Linked DNA regions of Homo sapiens. The protein of the gene in region 1 interacts with the protein of each later gene in a pairwise test. Each region holds a gene or a part of one and is shown in the gene's direction. Other genes may lie near its edges.

Region 1 (7,285 bases):
GTCAAGCAGAAATTATGGATTTGCTGATTTCATTGGAATCATAAAATATGTGGCCTTTTGTGTCTGGCTAGTTTCACTTAGCATAATGTTTTCAAGGTTCACCCATACCGTAGCATATATCAATACTTATTCCTTTTTATGGCTGAATAATATTCTCATTTGGCTGTACCACATTTTGTTTAACCATGCATCAGTTGATGGACATCTGCATTGTTTCTACCTTTTGGCTGTTGTGAATAGTGCTGCTATGAACATTGTCTACAAGTTTTCGTTTGAACACCTGTTTTCCATTCTTTTGGGTCTATATCCAGTAGTGGAATTGGCAGGTCCTATGGCAATTCCATGTTTTACTTATTGAGGAACTGCTTTTCCACAGTGGTGATGCCATTTTGTATTCCCACCTGCAGTGTGGGAGGATTCTAATTTCTCCACATCCCTGCCAACACTTGTTATAGGATGTATTTTTAGCCATATCTACCCAGCAAGGGTATTATATTCCATTGCTCAGATGCAGGAACTGATGTATGTTACAACAAACCTGCAGGGAAGGTATTGTCATCCCCATTTTACAGATGACAAAACAAAGAGGTTCAGAGAGGTTAAGTGACTTGCCCACTAGATCTACCACTAGATTTGAACCCAGGTCTCTCTGCTTCCCAGAACCATGACCCCTTCCATTATACCTCATGGCCTCTCCTTTGATATTTTCACCGCACGAGGAAGGGTGGAGAGAGACTTGAGGAGGGTGGTGGGTGGGGTGGGGCATGTTTCCCACCAGCCCTGCCCTGTCCGATCAGTGAGACCCGCCTGGTAGAGGTGCTGGAGGGTGTGTGCAGCAAGTCAGACTTCGAGTGCCACCGCCTGCTGGAGCTGAGTGAGGAGCTGGTGGAGAGCTGGTGGTTTCACAAGTGAGTGGCAAAGGGCCTTCCCTGGAAGTGGGTCACAGGTGAGGCCTGGTGATAAGGCCTGATTTGGCCGAGAAGCAGGGGGGTGCATGCTGGGGCCCATGTCCTGGTTGTGCTCCTTCCAAACCCAGGTCTGCTAAGAACTTGCCGGGGGACTTGCGCTCCACTTTGAGCCTCAGTTTACCCTTCTGCCAAATGGGGAAAGGGCATTGGTCAGATGGCCTTTTGGGTCTTATGTCCAAGCTGGGTTGAATCACAGATTCAGGCATGGGGGAATGGGAACAGCACTTATGACACTATCTCAGCACCTCCTCCCCACCTCCCTCCACCCTGCCCCTGCCTCAGGCAGCAGGAGGCCCCGGACCTCTTCCAGTGGCTGTGCTCAGATTCCCTGAAGCTCTGCTGCCCCGCAGGCACCTTCGGGCCCTCCTGCCTTCGTGAGTTTTTAAGTTGCTCTTGGGGATGGGAGGGGACCACCGAGTCCAGGGATCCAGTCCTGGCTCTGTCCCTAGTTCGCTGTGTGAACTCAGGCTACTCAGATAAACTTCTCTGGACCTCAGTTCTTGCCTGCCTGACAGGGCTGGGGAGATGGGCAAATCAGTGGGGAAAGGCTTGGAGAAAGCACAGGGGCTAGACTGAGTCATATGCAGTATAGTTATCATCATGTACTAAAGAAATGATAGACTTCCCAGCCCCTTCATTTCCCATGCCAGATCGGACTATGGTACCTTCCTGGGGAGGGGCGGGTGCTGACCTGGAGCCTCCATGATCGCCATCCATCCTCACACACAGTCCTGGCACAAGAGCTGAACTTACTACCAGCCTCTTTTAGAGCAGTCTTTCCTGAAGCTACAGATAAAGAGCTAGCTACAAAGATGGCAAATTCAGTCTTTGTAAAAGAAAATATTGGCTGGGCGCGGTGGCTCACACCTGTAATCCCAACACTTTGGGAGGCTGCGGTGGGTGGATCATGAGGTCAGGAGATCGAGACCATCGTGGCTATCATGGTGAAACACCGTCTCTACTAAAAAATACAAAAAATTAGCCGGGCATGGTGGCGGGCGCCTCTAGTCCCAGCTACTCTGGAGGCTGAGGCAGAAGAATGGCATGAACCCGGCAGGCGGAGCTTGCAGTGAGCCGAGATCATGCCACTGCACTCCAGCCTGGGCGACAGAGCGAGACTCTGTCTCAAAAAAAAAAAAGAAAATATTTGGTCCAGTGGCTCGTACCTGTAAACCCAGCACTTTGGGAGGCTGAGGCAGGAGGATCACTTGAGGCCAGGAGTTTGAGAGACCAGCCTGGGTAGTAGAGCAAGACCCTGTCTCTTAAAAAAAAAATAGTGGGGCATGGTAGTGCAGCCTGTTGTTCCCCTAGGCTGAGGTGGGAGGATTGCTTGAGCCCAGGAGTTCGAAGCTGCAGTGAGCTATGATCATGTCATTGCCTGGGAAACAGAGCGAGACCCTGTCACTAAAAATAAATAAATAAATAAATAAATAAATAAATAAATAAATAAATAAAAGGTCTGTAAAATCTAATTGTTCCACAAGAGGAAATTGGTTAAGTAAATGTCAGTTTTATGACAAAATATTATGTCATTAAAATTAATTTTCTTCTCCAAAAATGTTTACTGATATGCAGAGCAGAAAATATTATCTTGTTTTTTTTGTTTTTTTGTCTTTTTTATTGATCATTCTTGGGTGTTTCTCCCAGAGGGGGATTTGGCAGGGTCATAGGACAATAGTGGAGGGAAGGTCAGCAGATAAACAAGTGAACAAAGGTCTCTGGTTTTCCTAGGCAGAGGACCCTGCGGCCTTCCGCAGTGTTTGTGTCCCTGGGTACTTGAGATCAAGGAGTGGTGATGACTCTCAACCAGCATGCTGCCTTCAAGCATCTGTTTAACAAAGCACATCTTGCACCGCCCTTAATCCATTTAACCCTGAGTGGACACAGCACATGTTTCAGAGAGCACAGGGTTGGGGATAAGGTCATAGATCAACAGGATCCCAAGGCAGAAGAATTTTTCTTAGTACAGAACAAAATGAAAAGTCTCCCGTGTCTACTTCTTTCTACACAGACACAGCAACCATCCGATTTCTCAGTGTTTTCCCCACCTTTCCCCCTTTTCTATTCCACAAAACCGCCATTGTCATCCTGGCCCGTTCTCAATGAGCTGTTGGGTACACCTCCCAGACGGGGTGGTGGCCGGGCAGAGGGGCTCCTCACTTCCCAGTAGGGGCAGCCGGGCAGAGGCGCCCCTCACCTCCCGGACGGGGCGGCTGGCCGGGCGGGGGGCTGACCCCCTCACCTCCCTCCCGGACGGGCTGGCTGCCCGGCGGAGACACTTCTCACTTCCCAGACGGGGCGGCTGCCGGGCGGAGGGGCTCCTCACTTCTCAGACAGGGCGGCCGGGCAGAGACGCTCCTCACCTCCCAGACGGGGTCGCGGCCGGGCAGAGACGCTCCTCACTTCCTAGATGGGATGGCGGCCGGGCAGAGACGCTCCTCACTTTCCAGACTGGGCAGCCTGGCAGAGAGGCTCCTCATATCCCAGACGATGGGCCGCCAGGCAGAGACGCTCCTCACTTCCCAGACGGGGTGGTGGCCGGGCAGAGGCTGCAATCTCGGCACTTTGGGAGGCCAAGGCAGGCGGCTGGGAGGTGGAGGTTGTAGCGAGCCGAGATCACGCCACTGCACTCCAGCCTGGGCACCATTGAGCACTGAGTGAACGAGACTCCGTCTGCAATCCCGGCACCTCGGGAGGCCGAGGCTGGCGGATCACTCGCGTTTAGGAGCTGGAGACCGGCCCGGCCAACACAGCGAAACCCCGTCTCCACCAAAAAAATACGAAAACCAGTCAGGCGTGGTGGCGCGCGCCTGCAATCGCAGGCACTCGGCAGGTTGAGGCAGGAGAATCAGGCAGGGAGGTTGCAGTGAGCCGAGATGGCAGCAGTACAGTCCAGCTTCAGCTTGGCATCAGAGGGAGACCGTGTAAAGAGAGGGAGAGGGAGACCATGGGGAGAGGGAGAGGGAGGCCATGGGGAGAGGGAGAGGGAAAGGGGGAGGGGGAGGGGAGGGGGGGAGGGAGGGAAGGCAAGGGAGAGGGAGAGGGAGAGGGAGAAAATATTATCTTGTATATCAAGGTTGTATAGATGACCTCACCTGGTTTGGTGTCTTCCCACAGCCTGTCCTGGGGGAACAGAGAGGCCCTGCGGTGGCTACGGGCAGTGTGAAGGAGAAGGGACACGAGGGGGCAGCGGGCACTGTGACTGCCAAGCCGGCTACGGGGGTGAGGCCTGTGGCCAGTGTGGCCTTGGCTACTTTGAGGCAGAACGCAACGCCAGCCATCTGGTATGTTCGGGTAGGTAGCCAAAAGGTGTGGCACTGGGCAGGGGCAGATGGGGCACCTGCCTGCCCATCCTCATGCTGCCCCCATTCCACCCAGCTTGTTTTGGCCCCTGTGCCCGATGCTCAGGACCTGAGGAATCAAACTGTTTGCAATGCAAGAAGGGCTGGGCCCTGCATCACCTCAAGTGTGTAGGTAAGTGGGGCCCTAGCTAGGTCTGGGAAGATGGTCAGGGGCCTGGGCTTGGTCCTTTATTCTCTCAACACAAGCCTGGGCTAGACTAGCCTAGTCTCCACCTTCATGGAGATCTCAACCTGGCTGGGAAGGCAGAAAAGTAACCAGATACTTACAGTCCAGTACACAGGTACTGTGTAGTATAGTCCCTGTGTACAGTGAGAGATGCCTCTGATCTAGTTCAGTGGAAGTGGTGATGGGGAATCAGGAAAGGCTTCTTGGAGGAGGCGTTACTTTGGCCAAGTCCTAAAAATTGAGGAAGGGGCTGGGCGCGGTGGCTCACGCCTGTAATCCCAGCACTTTGGGAGGCCAAGGCGGGCAGATCATGAGATCAGGAGATCGAGACCATCCTGGCTAACATGGTGAAACCCTGTCTCAACTAAAAATACAAAAAATTAGCTGGGCGTGGTGGCGGGTGCCTGTAGTCCCAGCTACTCAGGAGGCTGAGGCAGGAGAAGGGCATGAACCTGGGAGGCGGAGCTTGCAGTGAGCCGAGATCGCACCACTGCACTCCAGTCTGGGCAACAGAGGGAGACTCCATCTCAAAAAAAAAAAAAAAAAAAAAAAAAAATGAGGAAGGGTTGGCTAGGAGAATGAGGACACTGAACTTGGGGTCAGGAAACCTGGGTTCAAGACTTGGTTTGGTCCCAGCCTAGCCACTTATATAGACTAAAGTAAAGGCTAAGCTGCTGTAACAAAAATCCCCAAAAGACTGTGGCTTAAAGAGTATAGAGGTTGGCTGGGTGTGGTAGCTCACTCACGCCTCTAATCCCAGCACTTTGAGAGGCTGAAGTGGGGTGGATCACCTGAGGTCAGGAGTTCGAGACCAGCCTGGCCAACATGGCAAAACCCTGTCTGTACTAAAAATACAAAAATTTAGCCAGGCATGGTGGCAGGTGCCTGTAATCCCAGCTACTCGGGAGGCAGAGGCAGGAGAGTCGCTTGAATCCAGGAGGCAGAGGTTGCAGTGAGCCAAGATCACACCATTGCACTCTAGCCTGGGTGACAAGAGCGAAACTCCATCTCAAAAAAAAAAAAAAGAATCTAGAGGGTAGAGGTTTATTTTTTTTTATCATATTACAGTCCCAAAGTGAGTAGTCCAGGCTGGCAGGGGAGCTCTGCTAGTCATAATCATTCCAGTACCCAGATTATTCCTGTAACTTACTGCACAATCATCCCCTTGGGCGTTGTCTGCATGGTTGAAGCTGAGTCCTGGGCATCTCTGTGTCCCACATGCCAGCACTCAGGAAGGGAGAAGGGAAAGAAAGTGCATTGAGGAGTCCAAGCATTGTTTTAAGACCAAGCTAACGGTGGAGCTCATCACTCCTGTTTACATCCTGTTGGCCAGAACTCAATCACAGGGACACACTTAGCTTCAAGACAGGTTGGCAAATGTGGTCTCTGGCTGGGCAGCCTGAAGTCCAGCTAGTCTGCTTCTGTGTTGGTAGACAGCTTGCAGTCTCTGCCATACCATTTAATCCCAGGCAAGACCATTCCCCAACGGCTCTGGCTTCAGCTTCCCTACTAAATAGGGATTGAAATTCTCACCCTGCTCACCTCTCTGCAGACATTGATGAGTGTGGCACAGAGGGAGCCAACTGTGGAGCTGACCAATTCTGCGTGAACACTGAGGGCTCCTATGAGTGCCGAGGTCAGTGTCTACTTCTGCAGAGGAGGGGACGTGAGGAGTGGAGGAAGAGCTGCTCCACACCTGTCCCTCCAAACCTTCCCCTTCTCAGGCTTCAGAGCACCCCCAGGCCTCCGCTTCTGGAGCGTGGCTCCCCTGGGCCTAGGTGCACATCTCACCCTCATCTTTCTCTCCTCTCTCCAGACTGTGCCAAGGCCTGCCTAGGCTGCATGGGGGCAGGGCCAGGTCGCTGTAAGAAGTGTAGCCCTGGCTATCAGCAGGTGGGCTCCAAGTGTCTCGGTGAGTCTCCTGCTGATGGGACACAGGCACCTGGGAGTGCCTCACCCAGCATGAATGGTGAAGAGGCTGGAATATGGGCAGGTGGGGGAAGGAAGGGTGGAATGTTGCCTGGGCAAGGGCAGAGGGGAGTGTTGAGAGATGGACAAGATGGAGTCAGGGTGCTGGGTGGGGGGCCCTAGCAGGACTCTGACCCCTCCCTCCCCTCAAGATGTGGATGAGTGTGAGACAGAGGTGTGTCCGGGAGAGAACAAGCAGTGTGAAAACACCGAGGGCGGTTATCGCTGCATCTGTGCCGAGGGCTACAAGCAGATGGAAGGCATCTGTGTGAAGGAGCAGATCCCAGGTGAGCCCTGGGGCGGGAGAGGGGAGGTCCTCATTCAAAGAGAAGGCAGGCAAGCCCCTTCCCCAGGTAGCAGTGGCAGCTCCAGGCCCTGCCCCATCCCTACTGCCACCCAGCCCCCTGGAGGCTGCACTGAGACCGGGCTCTACATCTGATCTCCAGGTTGGCTCTCAGCAGCCTTATACCTTCCAGGGTACAAAGGGAATCAGACCTGGCATCAAATCAGTCTGCCTCCTTAACCTGTTTCCTCATCTATCCAATGGGACCAGTGTTTGCCCTGGCCTGCTGAGAGCTGTCCTAGGCCGGGGGTGTGGTGAGATGCAGGGTAATCACAACGATGATGGCAGGGACCATTTCCCCAGCAATTACTGTGTCAGATGCTGTTCTAGGTGCATTCCCCATCTTAACTGATTTAACCCCTGAAACAACCCGACGCTGGAAGTTGGGTTCTCATCCCCACTCTACATATGTAAAAATGAAGATGCAGAGAGATGAAGCTACTTTCCCAGGGCTATATGGCAAGCAAGTCGCAAAGCT
Region 2 (5,255 bases), on another chromosome or scaffold:
TTCCCCCAGCTGCACACTTTATCACTCCCCATCAGCTATCCTCCTAAGAGATGTATTATTGCAGTATATTTGGAGATTCCACAAAGGAGCATGGGCCCTGAAATCAATCACACTGCCTAATTTCAAACCTACCAGTAACTATGTGAGTGACCTCGGTTGAGCTACTCAAACTCATTAAGCCACAGTTTCTTCATTTGTAAAATAGGGAAGAGTCACATAACTCTTCATGTTACTAACGATGATTAAATCATATGGAAAGTGTTCAGCACAGTGCCTTGCCTGTTTCAAATCAGGCATTCAAAGACTGTAAACTTTATTATAATTATAGGACAACATGAAAAGCTTTAGAGCTAAAGAATAAAACTTTCTCACTTTACATGTTTTCCAAATAAACACCCATTGTGTGTGTGTGTGTGTGTGTGTGAATTTGAGACACATGGAACTTAGCAGGGAGTGTGCTTCAGAGGTAATAAATGCTCCCATCAACAACCACACTATTGTGTCTTCTTTGGGTTCTTCAGTATTTAAGTTTACTCTTTGTTTATATTGATGAGCTTTTTGACTTAATTTCAGAGCACTGTTTGCCAGAGTGGATTTTAATAGCACCAGCAATTTGTCACGGCTCTGATAGGTCCACAGAGCAGAGAGGAAAAGAAAGACATAAAATCAAGACCTTAGGTTTGAAACAACAGCAACAAAAAAATTGTTCAGGGCCATTAGGAATCATCCATTCAACATACTCCTTTTTCAGATAAGAAAACTGGAGGCCCAAAGGCATCATAGGAGTTTCCCAAAGCCATTCTACCAACTGTACACGAAGCTGTGACTAAAAGCCCGCGGAGAAGGAAAAGGAGCTTGGGAGCCAAGAAAGAAAAGAAAGGAGGTGGAAGGAAAGTCAAGATGTTATTTTGCAATTTCTCTGAAAGGAGTGAAGAGGGACGTTTGGGATTTCATAATTCATAAAGCTCCTTTAGCAAAAGCCCTTGGAAGTCTGAGAATCAGAGAATAAAGAACATTGGATTGGGAGTCCCATACCCTTTATCCATCACTCTTATCAGTATTGTAGCTATGAGGTTTGTGACAATCTCTTTAATAAGCATTTTTAAGAGTTCAGCTTTTTATTGAACGTGTTATAAAATAGGTTTACTCAAAAAAAAAAAAAAAAAGCCCATATTATCATCAGACTCCAGATTCTTCTTTCTTTGCTTCCACCTTCTTCTTCTCGGCCTAGGCCACAGTGACAGAAGGGCAGGACCTCCCGCAGGTACACCACCAGCTGCTGAGCAGGTCTTCCCACCCCGCCCCTCCACTGCAGAGGAGGCTCCCGAAGTTGACGATGGCCAGGGCCTTGGCAGACAAGCCAGGCCAAAAGCCGTCATCATTTACCCCAGCTGCTTTAGAAACGACATTGACCTTATCCTATGTGATGATCCCCTCAGCGTTATACAGAATGAGGGCTGAGTCAGTGCAGGCGAGCTCTGAGATGGAGTCCGTGGTGTGGACAAGTGCAAGGCTGGGCTGCCCGGAGTAGTGCTAGTGCTGGATGCAGTGAGGGCCTGACCCCAACGCAGCCTCAGCTCAGAAGGGCAGAGCATCTTGGCGGCAGCTGGGAAAAGGCTAAATAAGCATTTTTTAAATTTGTAAATTGAGTAATTGGAGGAGATAATCCTTAAGGTTGTTCCATTTTAAGACTTCACAGTTTTGTTCTTCTGCTGCGAAATGCCCTGTGGCAGTCTCTGCGCAGGATGTGACGGGTCCTGAGGCCTGGTTCCTGCCGTGCACATCAACGGGTAGGGTTTGGGTAGGTAGAGAAGGTGGAAAAGGGCATCAAGGACACAGTGGCCCAACTTGAGAGGACAAAAAAAATGATCAATGACCTGGAGAAAAAGTGTAGTGAGTCTGGCTAGAGAAAAAATAGCAACTAGTCATATTAGAAAGCTGGTTAGACCAGAGGCTGTGGAGGACTCCGAATGTGAAGCAAAGACACACATTTGGGAGACATCGAGGGATATTGACAAAGGGAGCTAACGGTGACATCAAAAGACATCATCTAGGAAAAGTGATTGAGAATCACTGGCCCAACTTTGGCAAGGCCAATATTGTGTAAAGTTGAGATTCTCATCAAAATCCATAATTCTAACATTTGGGAGGGGAGGAATTCATAAACACTGAGGCTGTGTCTGTTGCATAACACTGCATCAGAGAATAAAGGGCATGTTCAGATAACCGAATTTTAATATGGATTACTTGCATGGATTCCAACTTACTTTTCAATTTAGGCAAAACAATTTACATATGTGGACTCAGTCTGAGTTTCACATTTTCATTTGGTAAAACTTCACAGCAGCTGTTGGTCACTGAGAGCCAGTGCAACCCTACCCACTGGGCCTGCTCCTGTAATTAATGACACACGCGGACCAAGTAGGAATGGTCTTTGAAGATATTGCAAAAGGGTGACAGTCATAGGAGCTAGTCAGTCAAATGTGAGAAACTCATATGTGTTTGGGATCATTTTAACCGTTTAAAAATACAGAAAGATGTCTGTTTGATTGTTTTCCTAGCCAATTGGCTTGCTGGCTTTCAAATAATATGTATAAATCTGTGTGTTTTCTTCCAGGGTCTTTCTTCCCTGATTTCAAGCCCTCTGAAACAGTTTTTAAAATAGTATTTTGGCTCGGATATCTAAACAGCTGCATCAACCCCATCATATACCCATGCTCCAGCCAAGAGTTCAAAAAGGCCTTTCAGAATGTCTTGAGAATCCAGTGTCTCTGCAGAAAGCAGTCTTCCAAACATGCCCTGGGCTACACCCTGCACCCGCCCAGCCAGGCCGTGGAAGGGCAACACAAGGACATGGTGCGCATCCCCGTGGGATCAAGAGAGACCTTCTACAGGATCTCCAAGACGGATGGCGTTTGTGAATGGAAATTTTTCTCTTCCATGCCCCGTGGATCTGCCAGGATTACAGTGTCCAAAGACCAATCCTCCTGTACCACAGCCCGGGTGAGAAGTAAAAGCTTTTTGCAGGTCTGCTGCTGTGTAGGGCCCTCAACCCCCAGCCTTGACAAGAACCATCAAGTTCCAACCATTAAGGTCCACACCATCTCCCTCAGTGAGAACGGGGAGGAAGTCTAGGACAGGAAAGATGCAGAGGAAAGGGGAATAATCTTAGGTACCCACCCCACTTCCTTCTCGGAAGGCCAGCTCTTCTTGGAGGACAAGACAGGACCAATCAAAGAGGGGACCTGCTGGGAATGGGGTGGGTGGTAGACCCAACTCATCAGGCAGCGGGTAGGGCACAGGGAAGAGGGAGGGTGTCTCACAACCAACCAGTTCAGAATGATACGGAACAGCATTTCCCTGCAGCTAATGCTTTCTTGGTCACTCTGTGCCCACTTCAACGAAAACCACCATGGGAAACAGAATTTCATGCACAATCCAAAAGACTATAAATATAGGATTATGATTTCATCATGAATATTTTGAGCACACACTCTAAGTTTGGAGCTATTTCTTGATGGAAGTGAGGGGATTTTATTTTCAGGCTCAACCTACTGACAGCCACATTTGACATTTATGGGGAGAGGGCCTAGAGAGGAAGAGCATTAAGATGGTGGCCGAGATCCAGACACATTATTTTTAGAGCAAGTCCTGAAACTCCACCCTTTCTGATACATCCAATTTCTCAGCTTGAGGGAAACTTGGCAGTGAGGTTTACCTTTGACTGCACTTTGAATGGATGCTGCTCCTCATTTCCCAAAGATGAGAGTGAGGGGCACTCATGATGTCTTGGAATGTAGTGTTCTCTATCCTTGGGTCAGGAGAGGGTTGAAAGAACCAACCAGGGTGGTATGGCTTTTCCCAAGAGAAAACAATAGACCTGAGCATCATTCTTTCAATTTAACTACTAGAGAGAAAATCCATTAAACAGTTCCAAGATCAGATGATGATAGGCTTTCTCTCTAATATCTTTAAAGAGCAAGAGGTTGGTGTGGCTGTTAATTTCTTGCAAAGATAGAGGCTGTTCACTTACTGCACAGCCATTTCAACATGGCTTACAAAAGCCTTTCTTGACAAATCACTTACCTGTTCCAGAACTCTGTTATGAAAATCCAGAGCTTATAATATTTTGAAAGGCAAAAGATTGTCTCCCATTACTTCTTATCTGCTTCACTATTGCATAATGAATGAGCTTCACCTGTGGCATGTTGGAATGAGCCTTATGATCCAAGTACATTATTCCCGAACTTTGAAAAATACTAATGCTTAGCTTCAGACAATACTGATGGATCACCAAAGAACTGTCTAACGCAGGAGTTTGCAAACATTTTTTGATAGAAGGCCATTTGTTCTGGTAAAAGATCCAGTAGTCAACTCAACTTCATCTATTCCTACTTTTCTGCAAGAGCTTGGGGAACATGCTATATTTTGCTTTATGTATACCAAATTTTGGTAAACCATAATAACTCAGTACAGAACTTGTGTATCTCTTTTCTGAAATGCCTGGAACCAGAAGTGTTTCAGATTACAGATTTTTTCAAATTTTGAAATACTTGCATATACATAATCAAATATCTCTGGGATGGGACCCAAGTCTAAACACAAAATTCATTTATGTTTCATATACACCTCATATGCATAGCCTGAGGGTAATTTTATACAATATTTTTAATTGACTGTTTTTGACTGCAACCCATAGACATGAGGTCAGGTGTGGAATTCCCCACCTGTGGCGTCATGTCGGTGCTCAAACAATCTCGGATCTTAGAGCATTTCGGATTTCAGATTTTCGGATTAGGGCTGCTCAAGCTATAGATTACTAAGGATGAAGATGGTAACTATAAGTAAAAATTAAAATATGGCTGTCTTTTCACAATAAGGATTTAAAATAGAATTTAAGTTTTTGGAATAATTCTCGACAACAATCAGTGGTCTAAAACTAAAGACCATTTGCCTGGCCTCTTTCCTCTATTAGGGTAATTTCCTCTAACAAATTCAAAGCAGCTGTAACCTTCACAGCAAGAGTAGCGGCCTCAACATCTTTTTCTTCTTCTCTTGCAGCAAAATGATAATTTCCTTAAATTCTTCTTAAAACCAAATCTCTTTCCACATTGCAATGGAGGGTATGTTTGCATGTGGATTTGGGTTTTGTTATAGGTTGTATTTAGACCTGGAGTGTGACTGTTTTTTCAGCCTTTTTCTGAAGAGTGTCTTCTTACTGGCCAGATACATATTCAGCCTTGTGTTCAGAACTT

The links.
Region 2: the proteins of CRELD1 (region 1) and ADRA1A interact in binary tests that used the Homo sapiens proteins (3 or more experiments, as listed by UniProt).

The regions. Positions count from the first base shown.
Region 1 is NC_000003.12:9,936,765-9,944,049, forward strand, and holds part of CRELD1 (protein disulfide isomerase CRELD1 isoform 2 precursor), read left to right. Parts: intron 1-797; coding exon 798-908; intron 909-1,250; coding exon 1,251-1,342; intron 1,343-4,085; coding exon 4,086-4,262; intron 4,263-4,346; coding exon 4,347-4,442; intron 4,443-6,048; coding exon 6,049-6,132; exon of another isoform or gene 6,133-6,133; intron 6,134-6,312; coding exon 6,313-6,408; intron 6,409-6,616; coding exon 6,617-6,751; intron 6,752-6,910; coding exon of another isoform or gene 6,911-6,987; exon of another isoform or gene 6,988-7,125; coding exon of another isoform or gene 7,126-7,285. UniProt on the Homo sapiens protein: Protein disulfide isomerase. Promotes the localization of acetylcholine receptors (AChRs) to the plasma membrane.
Region 2 is NC_000008.11:26,768,029-26,773,283, reverse strand, and holds the end of ADRA1A (alpha-1A adrenergic receptor), read left to right. Parts: intron 1-2,617; coding exon 2,618-3,135; 3' UTR 3,136-4,475; downstream 4,476-5,255. UniProt on the Homo sapiens protein: This alpha-adrenergic receptor mediates its action by association with G proteins that activate a phosphatidylinositol-calcium second messenger system. Its effect is mediated by G(q) and G(11) proteins.